Linked DNA regions of Homo sapiens. The protein of the gene in region 3 interacts with the protein of the main gene of each other region in a pairwise test. Each region holds a gene or a part of one and is shown on either strand. Other genes may lie near its edges. The genes, in order: ZDHHC17, RUFY1 and RAB39B.

Region 1 (3,654 bases), on a different chromosome or scaffold from region 3:
ACCTCCTGGGTTCAAGCAATCCTCCTGCCTCAGCCTCCTAAGTAGCTGGGACTACAGGCATGCATCACCACACCCAGCTAATTCTTTTATTTTTTTGTAGAGACAGGGATCCCACTGCTTCCCAGGCTGGTCTGGAATTGCTAGGCTCAAGCGATCCTCCCACCTCAGCCTCCCAAAGTGCTGGGATTTACAGGCACAAGCCACCGCACTCAGCCAGAAGTATATTTTACCTTATTAATGTATACTAAGCAAAAGAATAGACTGAATAAAAGAAAATTTCAAAGAGAAGGACTTTTATGGAAATGTAGTTTTATTATTTCAAGTAAAAAGGTTACTAAAAGAAGTGGCCTTAGAGCAACTGCTAAAAATGAATCCTCCCCTAGTTCCTTTAGTAACAAGGAAGAACTGATAGTTAACTCTAATAAAGTTTTTCTACTATATTGTAAAAAATAAGTAAAAAATAAATTGTATTTTGACCTATTCATGTATACAGCAAAGTACATATAAGGATTATGGGCTTGGGAGTCAGAGTTTAGGTTCTAATATAAACTATGCCAACTTTCTAATGATGTGAACCTGAGTAAACTACTTCACCTCTCTTGAATCTGTTTCCTAATCTGTAAACAGCTCAACATATACACTTTGCAGAACTACTGTGAAAAGTAAATGAACAAAACTTGGAAGCAATAAGACGTCCTTCAGTGGGTGAATGGATTTGATACACCCAGAAAATAAAATATTATTCAGCACTAAAAAGAAACGAGCTATGAAGCCATGAAAAGACATGGAGGAACTTTAAATGAATATTACTAAGTCAAAGAAGCCAATCCAAAAGGCAACATACTGCATGATTCCAACTATAAGATACTCTGGAAAAAACAAAACTAAAGAGACAGTAAAAAAAATCAGGGATTGGTGGGAAGGACATATGAACAGGCAGAACAAAGATTTTTAAGGCCATGGAACTATTCTACATGACAACATAATGGCGGACACACATTACTCTTACAAGTGTTAAGAACCTCGCCGGGTGCAGTGGCTGACACCTGTAAGCCCAGTACTTTGAGACGTCGAGGCAGACAGATCACCTGAGGTCAGGAGTTCAAGACCAGCCTGGCCAACATGGTGAAATCCCGTCTCTACTAAAAATACAAAAAATGAGCAGGGCGTGGTGGCACGTGCTTGTAGAGGTACTCGGGAGGGAGGCTGAGGCAGGAGAATTGCTTGAACCCAGGAGGCGAAGTTGCAGTGAGCCAAGAATCACGCCATTGCACTCCAGCCTGGGCAACAAGAGCAAAACTCCATCCCTCTCCCAAAGAAACAAAAACAAGCGTTAAGGCCGGGCGCGGTGGCTCACGCCTGTAATCCCAGCACTTTGGGAGGCCGAGGCGGGTGGATCACGAGGTCAGGAGATTGAGACCATCCTGGGTAACATAGTGAAACCCTGTCTCTACTAAAAAAAAAAAAAAAAATACAAAAGTTAGCTGGGCATGGTGGCACGTGCTTGTAATCCCAGCTACTCAGGAGGCTGAGGCAGAAGAACTGCTTGAACCTGGGAGGCAGAGGTTGTAGTGAGCTGAGATTGTATCACTGCACTCCAGCCTGGCGACAAAGCTAGACTCCGTCTCAAAAAAAAAAAAAAAAAACAAGTGTTAAGAACCATAGAATACACAACACGAAGAGTGAGCCCTAATGTAAACTATGGCCTTTGGGTGATAATGATGCATCAATGTAGGTTCATCTACCATAACAAGTGTACCACGCTAGTGTAGAATGTCCATACTGAGGGAGGTTATGCATGTGTACAGGCAGGGAGCATATGGGAACTCTTCGTACTTTCTGCTCAATTTTGCTACCAATATAAAACTGCTCTTAAAAAATTAAGTCTGTTCAAAAAATTCAAAAACAAAACACAAATGAGACCATTTGTAACCACAGCTAGCTAGTGCCTAGCAAATCCAACTCTATCATCTCTATCATACTGTATTGTGCTATAAAAACAGGCAACCTGGATTACTACTTAACCTCTCTATACCTCTGTTTCCTCATTTGTAAAATAGGTATAAAAAGCTGTGAGGATTAAATGAATGAATATACATGCAAAATTGTTTAGGATAGTGCCTAGCTCATACTTATAATTTGCTGGCATCTATGTCCCGGCTACATGGAAGAAAGAAGCTGGTCTGCATTTGGAGAAAATGAAGCTGAAAGGGAGAGAGGAGGAGAGATAAGAGAGTTTTGGTGGCATTCTCAGCTCAGGTTCCAGTTGTGTTTGATTTCAACTGCATCCTTGCATCCTGAGTTTAGGTTATCTGAGACAGTAAATTCCCCTTTTTGCCCAACTATGTTTCAGACAAGATTGTTGACATCTGCAACAAGAGGATCCTTACACAACAAGAAACTTCTGTCTTCAACTCAAAGAACTTTTTTTTTTTTCATGAGAATAGGGATAGTTTTGGTAACCACCAGTTTTGTTCATACCTCATTAAATCCTTCAAAAATTAATGAGTATTCATAATTGAAAAATTATTCTTAAAAACTAAACAAGGGTAGGGTATACTAACATCTCAATCAGAAGTAATTTTTCACTTCATTTTTTTCTAGAATACAACAACTGATAAAAATGCAAGCCATCTGACATATATACACAAAAAATGTCTCAGGTACTGTTAATGTTATAATCTTCATATCCCTAACAGTATCACCGATAATCAGAAAGATGATCCTAGGACACTATAATGTTCTAATTTATCAAAGAAAGATTCTATTATGTTTAGTATGTATTAACCCTAGAAAATAATTTGGCAAATTTGCAACAGGAATTGAAACAAAAACAAAAAAGTATTGTTTAATTCTCTGTAACTCAGGATACTAAGTTCACAGTATCTCATTCACAGAAGGCTGAAGTTTCACTGTACTTTCAAATTAGCTGCCTGTGGCTCCACTTTAAGAAAATTTTAAAAGAAGATATTTTATCCTAGGTCTAAATAATTATTCCACTGGGTCAAATTTTATGTATTTTATAAATATAATATTGTCTTGAATCATTATTTTTCAAATTCCAAAATTAAAATATTTGATTTTACTCTTAAATTATCCATCTGTAATAAAATCTATTCATAAAATAATACTATAATCAGATAATGCGCTGAAAGAGAATTTTACATAACCTTAATAGTGAAACATCTTTTCGGATTATGTAATTGTTGTGGGTTCTGTTAAAAGCAAACTGCATTTTTTTTTTTTTTTTTTTTTGAGATGGAGTTTTGCTCATTGCCCAGGCAGGATGGCACGATCTTAGCTCACAACCTCTGCCTCCCAGGTTCAAGCGATTCTCCTGCCTCAGCCTCCCGAGTAGCTGGGATTACAGGCATGCACCCCCATGCCCGGCTAATTTTTTATTTTTAGTAGAGACGGGGTTTCTCCATGTTGGTCAGGCTGGTCTCGAACTCCCGACCTCAGGAGATCTGCCAGCCTCAGCCTCCCAAAGTGCCGCAATTACAGGCGTAAGCCACCAAGCCCGGCCAGCACACTGCATTTTAAGACACCTTAACTGTTCAATGCTGACTACCTTAACATACCCTTACAACCCTCTCTAGGAGGAAAGGAGGACCACGAATCATTTCTAATTTTAAAAAATACACACAGACACAC
Region 2 (3,654 bases), on a different chromosome or scaffold from region 3:
TAAAGAGAAGTAACTTCACCAACTGCAAAATGTCTATATATATATCCCATATGGATTTAAAAAACTAGGCCGGGCATGGTGGCTCACACCTGTAATCCCAGCATTTTGGGAGGCCGAGGCAGGCAGATCACCTGAGGTCAGGAGTTCGAGACCAACCTGGCCAACATGGTGAAACCCTATCTCTACTAAAAAAAAAAGTACAAAAATTAGCCGGGCTTGGTGGTACGCACCTGTAATCCCAGCTACTCAGGAGGCTGAGGCAGGAGAATTGCTTGAACATAAGAGGCGGAGTTTGCAGTGAGCCGAGACCATTCCACTGCAGTCCAGCCTGGGCAACAGAACGAGACTATCTCAAAAAATAATAATTAACTCAATTTAAGGAAAGTATTAATAACTACCACTCAATCTAGCAAAATGGTGACCATGGCTTACAAAGAGATGAAATTTGGGGAACTGCTGGGTAGAGCCATGAGGCTGGTCCCAAAGGTCACCGGGATTTGAAGCCATCAGGTAGGACAGGAGCAGAGGTGGGAAAGGAAATGGGCCAAGGGCGGCTCGCTCTGCAGCGACACAAGAAAAACAGGATGGGAGAAAGACAGTGACACCACTTCAGCCAGGGCCAGGCCCAAGGCTGACTCATTCTCTTTCCCCACTGATCTGCCTACACAAGCAATGAGGACAGGCAGGACTTTCAGAGGGAGCAGTTTAGGAGCAGAGATTGAATGTGAGCAGCACTCTTGCTGGATGATATTTTTTCAATGGTAGAAGCTAAAGGAAATGCTGCGGAATATTTTGAATACTTGTTTTAAAATGTTGTCCCGGTCGGGTGCAGTGGCTCATGCCTGTAATCCCAGCACTTTGGAAGACCGAGGTGGGTGAATCACCTGATGTTGGGAGTTTGAGACCAGCCTGACCAACATGGAGAAACCCCGTCTCTACTAAAAATACAAAATTAGCCAGGCATGGTGGCGTAGGCGTGTAATCCCAGCTATTCAGGAGGCTGAGGCAGGAGAATCTCTTGAACCTGGGGGGTGGAGGTTGCTGTGAGCCAAGATCGCCGCATTGCACTTCAGCTAGGGCAACAAGAGCAAAACTTTGTCTCAAAAAAAAAAAGAAAAGAAAAGTTTTCCCATGTGGGGTCTGGTATGTGATTGTATTGTCCATAGGTGTCCTGTTTGGTTTTGGGGGATTTTTTTTTAAGGTAATAAGCGAACATGATTTTTAAAAATCAAACCATACAAAAGAACATTCGGACAGGCATGGTGGCTCATGCCTGTAATCCCAGCACTTTGGGAGGCCGAGGCGGGCGGATCATTTGAGGTCAGGAGTTTGAGACCAGCCTGGCCAACATGGTGAAACCCCGTCTCCACTAAAAGTACAAAAATTAGATGGGCGTGGTGGCGCACGCCTGTAATCCCAGCTGCTCGGGAGGCTGAGGCAGGAAAATTGCTTGAAACCAGGAGGCAGAAGTTGCAGTGAGCCAAGATCACGCCACTGCACTCCAGCCTGGGTGACGAGCAAAATTCTGTCTCAAAAAAAAAAAAGGACAAATACTAAATCCTCCTTCCCAGAAATTTTCCCCAGTACTATTGTATCTTTGAGAGTTTCCGCACATAGCACATGTGCTTTCCTCTCTCAACACTGGCTGTTTTCACGCAAGCAATAGGATGTACCCACAAGGAATGTATCTTGCTTTTTAGAGTAATGCTTCCTAAAGGATGAGTAACAAACATGCGTGTTTTAAGAATTAACATGCTGGCGGGGTGCAGGTGGCTCATGCCTGTAATCCCAGTACTTTGAAAGGCCAACGAGAGAGGATTGCTTGAGCCCAGGAGTCTGATACTGGCCTGGCAATTTATTTGGCAATTCAGTAGGTGTAGAACTTCACGATATTCTCTGTGTCATGTTGAACTATTATTAATGAAGCTTAGAGATGTGAATAGTTTGGCCAAGGTCACAAAGCCAGTAAAATTGAGAGATAGAACCGCTAAAAGATCGTTCCAGGTTTAATTTTCCATGCCTCTAACTTGAGTGCTAATGGGTACAGGTAACCCCATAGTAGGGGATGCATGAGATGGCAAAACACTGCCAGCAGCACTTCCAGAGACAGCACCACCCAGCGCTGATTGCCTGGAACACTGGTCTTAACATTTTTTGCTCATGTAACCCCCTAAGAAAACTCCCAACTTTTTTTTTTTTTTTTTTTTTTTTTGAGCCGGCGTTTTGCTCGTCACCCAGGCTGGAGTGCAATGGCGTGATCTCGGGTCACGGCAACCTCCGCCTCCCAGGTTCAAGCGATTCTCCTGCCTCAGCCTCCCAAGCAGCTGGGATTACAAGCATGCACCACCACGCCCAGGTAATTTTTTGGATTTTTTTTTTTTTTTAATTGATCATTCTTGGGTGTTTCTCAATTTTTTGGATTTTTAGTAGAGACAGGGTTTCACCATGTTGGCCAGGCTGGTCTCAAACTCCTGACCTCAAGTGACCTGCTCACCTCAAGTGATCTGCCCACCTCGGCCTCCCAAAGTGCTGGGATTACAGGCATGAGACACTGCTCCCAGCCGAAAACTTAACTTTTAAAGTTAACGTATAAGATTATTCATCATATTTTAAAGTTGCTCAGAATTCATTTTCTGGCATAGTGTAAATATTGACTTTTTAAAATAAAACTGTTACATTGTTTTTTGAAATGTATCAAGTGGTATGTAAATACCTTAATGAATTGATAATTACCACCATCCATCTTTAAAATAGCAAGTTATTTAATATTTGAAAATTTTACATTTTCCCTTTTATTCATTGAACTTGGATTTCCATTCCACTTCTGCCATAGAATTAATGTAATAGATTTGTATGTTTTTAAAAGTGTTATTGGTCATCTTATAAGTCTCAGCAAAAAGTATGTAAATAAGTTAAAGTTTAATAAATTTTTATTGTGACTGAAGCTCTAAGTGTATAAAAATTTTTCTTCTGGAGTGAATTATCATTAAGTTTATTAGTAATGCTACATTGGTAACAGGAACATAAATATAATTTTTATAAAGAATTATACATAAATTTTTCTTGAATTGCGTTTTTTTTTTTTGAGAAGGGTCTCACTCTGTTGCCCAGCCTGGAATGCAGTGGCGCAATCTCGGCTCACTGCAACCTCCGCCTCCCGAGTTCAAGTGATCCTCCCACCTCAGCCTCCCCAGTAGCTGGGACTACAGGTGCACGCCAGCACGCCCAGCTAAGTTTTGTATTTTTAGTAGAGACGGGTTTTACCATGTTGGCCAGGCTGATCTCGAACTCCTGACCTCAGGTGATCTGCCTGCCTCAGCCTCCCAAAGTGCTGGGATTACAGGCGTGAGCCACCACGCCCAGCCAATGAATTGCATCTCTAAATGAGATGAATGGTGTTGGTTTTTGTCATTAGCATATATCTGTAGATGAATATATATGATTTACTGCTAAAGCGTGATAGAATTCAGCATCAGTTTTAGTCCTGTTTTTTGTTTGTTTGTTTTAGTAATGTTGGTCATCTTTGAACTCTTTCCAAGTTATATGCCCCAAATCACACTGATCTAAAGCCAAAAATTATTTTTTGTTCCCTTATTTTCATTCAAAGCAAATAATTGAAAATTACCTGACCTGCAACCTAATCATATTAAGAAA
Region 3 (3,911 bases):
AAGACTAAAGAGTAAGACTCTAGGTTGAGCTGTCAGCAATGACTTTTGGAGCCACGTCTCTTAAATCTATAAGAGAATTAATATAAATGTGATAAAGCTGTACAGAACTTAGGCTACCTATCTACTTATGCCCAGACTCAGAATCCATTATCTTTCCTTTTTTTTTTAACCCTCCCCCCACCCTCATGTGTACTATCAATCCTGGGAAATGTGCTGAACTATTGTGTTCTTATGTTGGTGCCACACTGTAAGTGATCCTGGCATAAAAAGCATGCCGTAGTAGGATTTGAAAAAGCTGAGGCAACTTAGCCTGGAAAAAAGAAGACTTTCCAGGGAACATAATAGTTGTAATCAACTACTTGGCAACAGAATTAAGACTCTTGATTAAAAATCATCATGATGAAGATTTAGGCTTGACAGAACCAACTTTTCTCAAAGTGGCATATGCTCACCAGGAAGTATTGAGGTCCCAGGGACTTTTGATATGATGGTCAGATAACTTTCAAAAATTATATTCTCTTTCTGGCTTTAAGGTAATGGTGAATACGATTGTGTATGGTATATGTCACATCTTATTGATATCCTTGGTAGTAGTTGCTACGCTGTAGTAACAGATTCTGGAAATAGCTATAACACACACTTGGAATCTCACAGTCACATAATCAATCATTTTACTAAATACAAGCATATTTTCATTCACATACAGCTAAATAAAGCATTTTTCACATTTCATTACAGTGCACAACAAAGTGAGGAAAAGTATACAGTACATTTTATTCTGAAATATGAGACAATCTAATCCAACATGCAGTTGTGGTCTTTGTTACAAGTTAGTTTATCTTTTCTTTACCTATGTAGTAAAATAGCTTCTAAAGCTTTATCCTTAGTATTATATTAACACCTGATTCTTTTCACACTTATTTTCTAAAACCCACTTATTGCAGTGACAATGGTACTGAATTCTACTAAAATGATTTTTAAATTTTCTAGAACTTATTTAAGCAATTAAGCTCAGCCACCTCTGCTGGATTTATGCTGAATATTTTTAAACCTGCCAGAAAATGCCAGGAGTGGGAATACTGTACATATAATAAATTTTAGTGAAGAAAATTGTAGGGAAGTTTTGTTTCTTTCCTTTTTTGAACTGACAGAATCCAGTCGACTCTCATTTACCCACTGGATAATCTTGCTTTCAGAATCTTCTAAACATAATTCAGTATAGCAGTTGATGAAATTTTGTGTTAATGAAATTTGCCATGTTTTGTTTGTCTTTTACAACCACGAAGGTGGCAATTTAATTACCCCACCTAAGCCAGCTCTTGTGAAATGAATATAGAGAAGATGATCAGTTCACTTGTAGTTAATGCTGTGAACTGATCCAAAGTGGTTTGCTCATCCAACTTGGGGCACAGGTGGCAGAATAGTCTTCCATAATTTTCATGATTTGGTTTCTTTATTCTGGCTAAAGCAAATTCCCAAAGTTTCAGATTCGGTCACATTCATACTGAAGTTCAATATTATATCTCAAAGCGATTTGCCATTCTTAGGCCTTCCTATCACAATGGATATGAGAAACCTGACTCTAGTCAGAATAGTTTTTTTTTTTAATTGTGAAAAGTATGGCTTTTGCCTAGCTGAACTGGCTACAATCCAAAAAGTAATTTAAAGCATCACCTCTCTTCAAGAAAATAATGGAAACTTCAAGCCAGCCATTCCAATTTGCTGATGCAGTTAGCTGTTTGTTCACCTGAGAATTAAGGGCTGACTCTCTTGGGTAGACAGGAACTCAGTGTACGTATATGGCAGACAGGTGGCCAAGGTCATTTTGGGGTGGGTATTTTATCCCTATCCCACTCCGCATTGCTGTACGTGGTTCCTTTCAATAAAAATCCACTGTGTCTCAGTGATAAGAACACTTATAGCCCACACAGTTCTAATGTCTTTTTAGTTGTGCAATTATTCACTTGTTTAAAGCCCTCTTGTCAATAATGCCTGAATGGGCTTTACCTTTGATTCCTTCCCATGTTCCCTCAGGATTATAGCTGAGTTGTAATCAATAAGGAAAACATATCCTAACATGTAGAGAACATTTATTTATAGTCATATCTCTTCCCAAGTAAACAAATTCATAATCATTTATTCATCTGACAGCAGTATGATGCAGTGAAAAGAGCTAGGAGTCACGAGTCCTTGACCCTGGCCAAGTGATTTTCATGGCTCTTAGTTTACTATTCTGTAAAATGGGGCAAAAACCTCGTAGGCCTGTTATGATGATCAAATAAGTAGCCCAAGTAACTGTAAGCTGTTTGTAAGGGTTACAGTGCCTCCTGTTCAGCAGGAGAGAGTGTTTGCCTCAGGGCTCTTTTCAGAGGCAGTCACTGTGTTGTCACTGTCACGTGCCTGAAGAAGCAAGCAGACTGTTTACTTCCAGATTGCAGGTGCCAAGGCATTGAAACCCCAGGCATGGTCAAAGGAAAAAGGGGGTATGGCATTTGGGTTATAGTGTCTCTTTCCTAGTTATAGGGTAATTTGCATGGGACAATTTGTTTCATACAGCTGGTAATTCTATCACAAGGGTGTTCATTTTCTGAAATGTGCTAATAACTGTGTCGATTGCCTTCCTTTCCATAGTCACATCATTTTTACTTGAACACCAGACCTTTTGGTCTGTGTTCCTCATTTTACAGAAAGCTGTTAAAAGCTAATTGGTACCTTTTAACCAAACCCAGCAAACACCTTTGGTGCAGGGTATTCTCACGGAATAAGTAGAGCTCATAATCTTTGTTTAGTTATGCTAATTGTCCCCATTGTGAAACTTTTTTCCCCTTTATGTATTTCTTTATGTTCATGGCCTATAAGTGAGCTCAAATACCAAGGAACAGTTGTCCTGTCTGTAGGTATGTTTTCCTGGGACTTAGCTTCCTAAACCCCAGGCCTTTAACATGTGGTCCACAAAGGGCTCATGGAGCAGCCACTGCCTAGCATGGGCCACAAAACAGTGCCTGGCCTGGCCCATGTCAGCAATTCAGTCCCTTGGTCACAGCACTCAGGCACCCCCATCCACCCGCACACGAGTCTGTCAGAGTCCCCCTGAGAGGGAGGCTCACTTGGTATCCAAATGGAGGTTGAGTTCTCATCAGTTACACAAAGATTCTATTTATTTCTCTTACTTTTCAGTTCAAGTAGGAGAGCATGTTTTGGAAATAAAAGAACTGACTAGCACAAACATCTCCTCTCTGATTTGACAACCTCTTCTGAAGAGTGAACCACATTTGGTACAAATCCACTCTTCACCCCTTCCCAGCCCTCCTGGATTGTAATCTCCCCCCTTTTAACCAGCTCATATATGTCTCTTGTCAGGTCTGTGAAGGCTTTCTCCACATTAATGGCATCTCGGGCTGACGTTTCAATGTACTTCATGCCGTATGCAGCAGCCAGTTTCTCGGCCTCGTGGCGAGTCACTTGCCTCTGTGTATCCAGGTCACACTTGTGACCCACCAGAACAAATACAATTTGGTAGGGCTGAACGTGTACTTTGGTCTCTTCTAACCACTCATGGACATTCTGGAAGGACCTGCGGTTGGTAATGTCAAATAAGAGAAGACCACCTACTGAGTTCCTGTAGTAGGCGCGAGTGATGGATCTAAAACACAAGAAAGAAGTAAAGAGTAAAGGCTGTGCCCAAACTTCTGCATGTCAATGAACTCAGTATATTCAAGTGTTCCTGGTTAGTGACACAGTCCTTTAATAAAAATGATTTTCTTTTTTTTTAAAAAAACAAAGGAATACAAATGGCATTCCATACTACTACTAATATGTGAGTTTCCAATTGGGCCAAACTTTGAGATGGGCATCTTCTAGAAACGAATGTTCATGAACTTTTAGGCATTTTCCATGGATTCAGCACTGGA

Evidence for each region.
Region 1: the proteins of RAB39B (region 3) and ZDHHC17 interact in binary tests that used the Homo sapiens proteins (3 or more experiments, as listed by UniProt).
Region 2: the proteins of RAB39B (region 3) and RUFY1 interact in binary tests that used the Homo sapiens proteins (3 or more experiments, as listed by UniProt).

What each region holds. Positions count from the first base shown.
Region 1 is NC_000012.12:76,770,528-76,774,181, reverse strand, and holds part of ZDHHC17 (palmitoyltransferase ZDHHC17), read right to left. Parts: intron 1-3,654. UniProt on the Homo sapiens protein: Palmitoyltransferase that catalyzes the addition of palmitate onto various protein substrates and is involved in a variety of cellular processes.
Region 2 is NC_000005.10:179,553,435-179,557,088, forward strand, and holds part of RUFY1 (RUN and FYVE domain-containing protein 1), read left to right. Parts: intron 1-2,219; exon of another isoform or gene 2,220-2,356; intron 2,357-3,654. UniProt on the Homo sapiens protein: Activating adapter involved in cargo sorting from early/recycling endosomes. Regulates retrieval of proteins from endosomes to the trans-Golgi network through interaction with the dynein-dynactin complex.
Region 3 is NC_000023.11:155,257,587-155,261,497, forward strand, and holds the end of RAB39B (ras-related protein Rab-39B), read right to left. Parts: intron 3,644-3,911; coding exon 3,217-3,643; 3' UTR 649-3,216; downstream 1-648. UniProt on the Homo sapiens protein: The small GTPases Rab are key regulators of intracellular membrane trafficking, from the formation of transport vesicles to their fusion with membranes.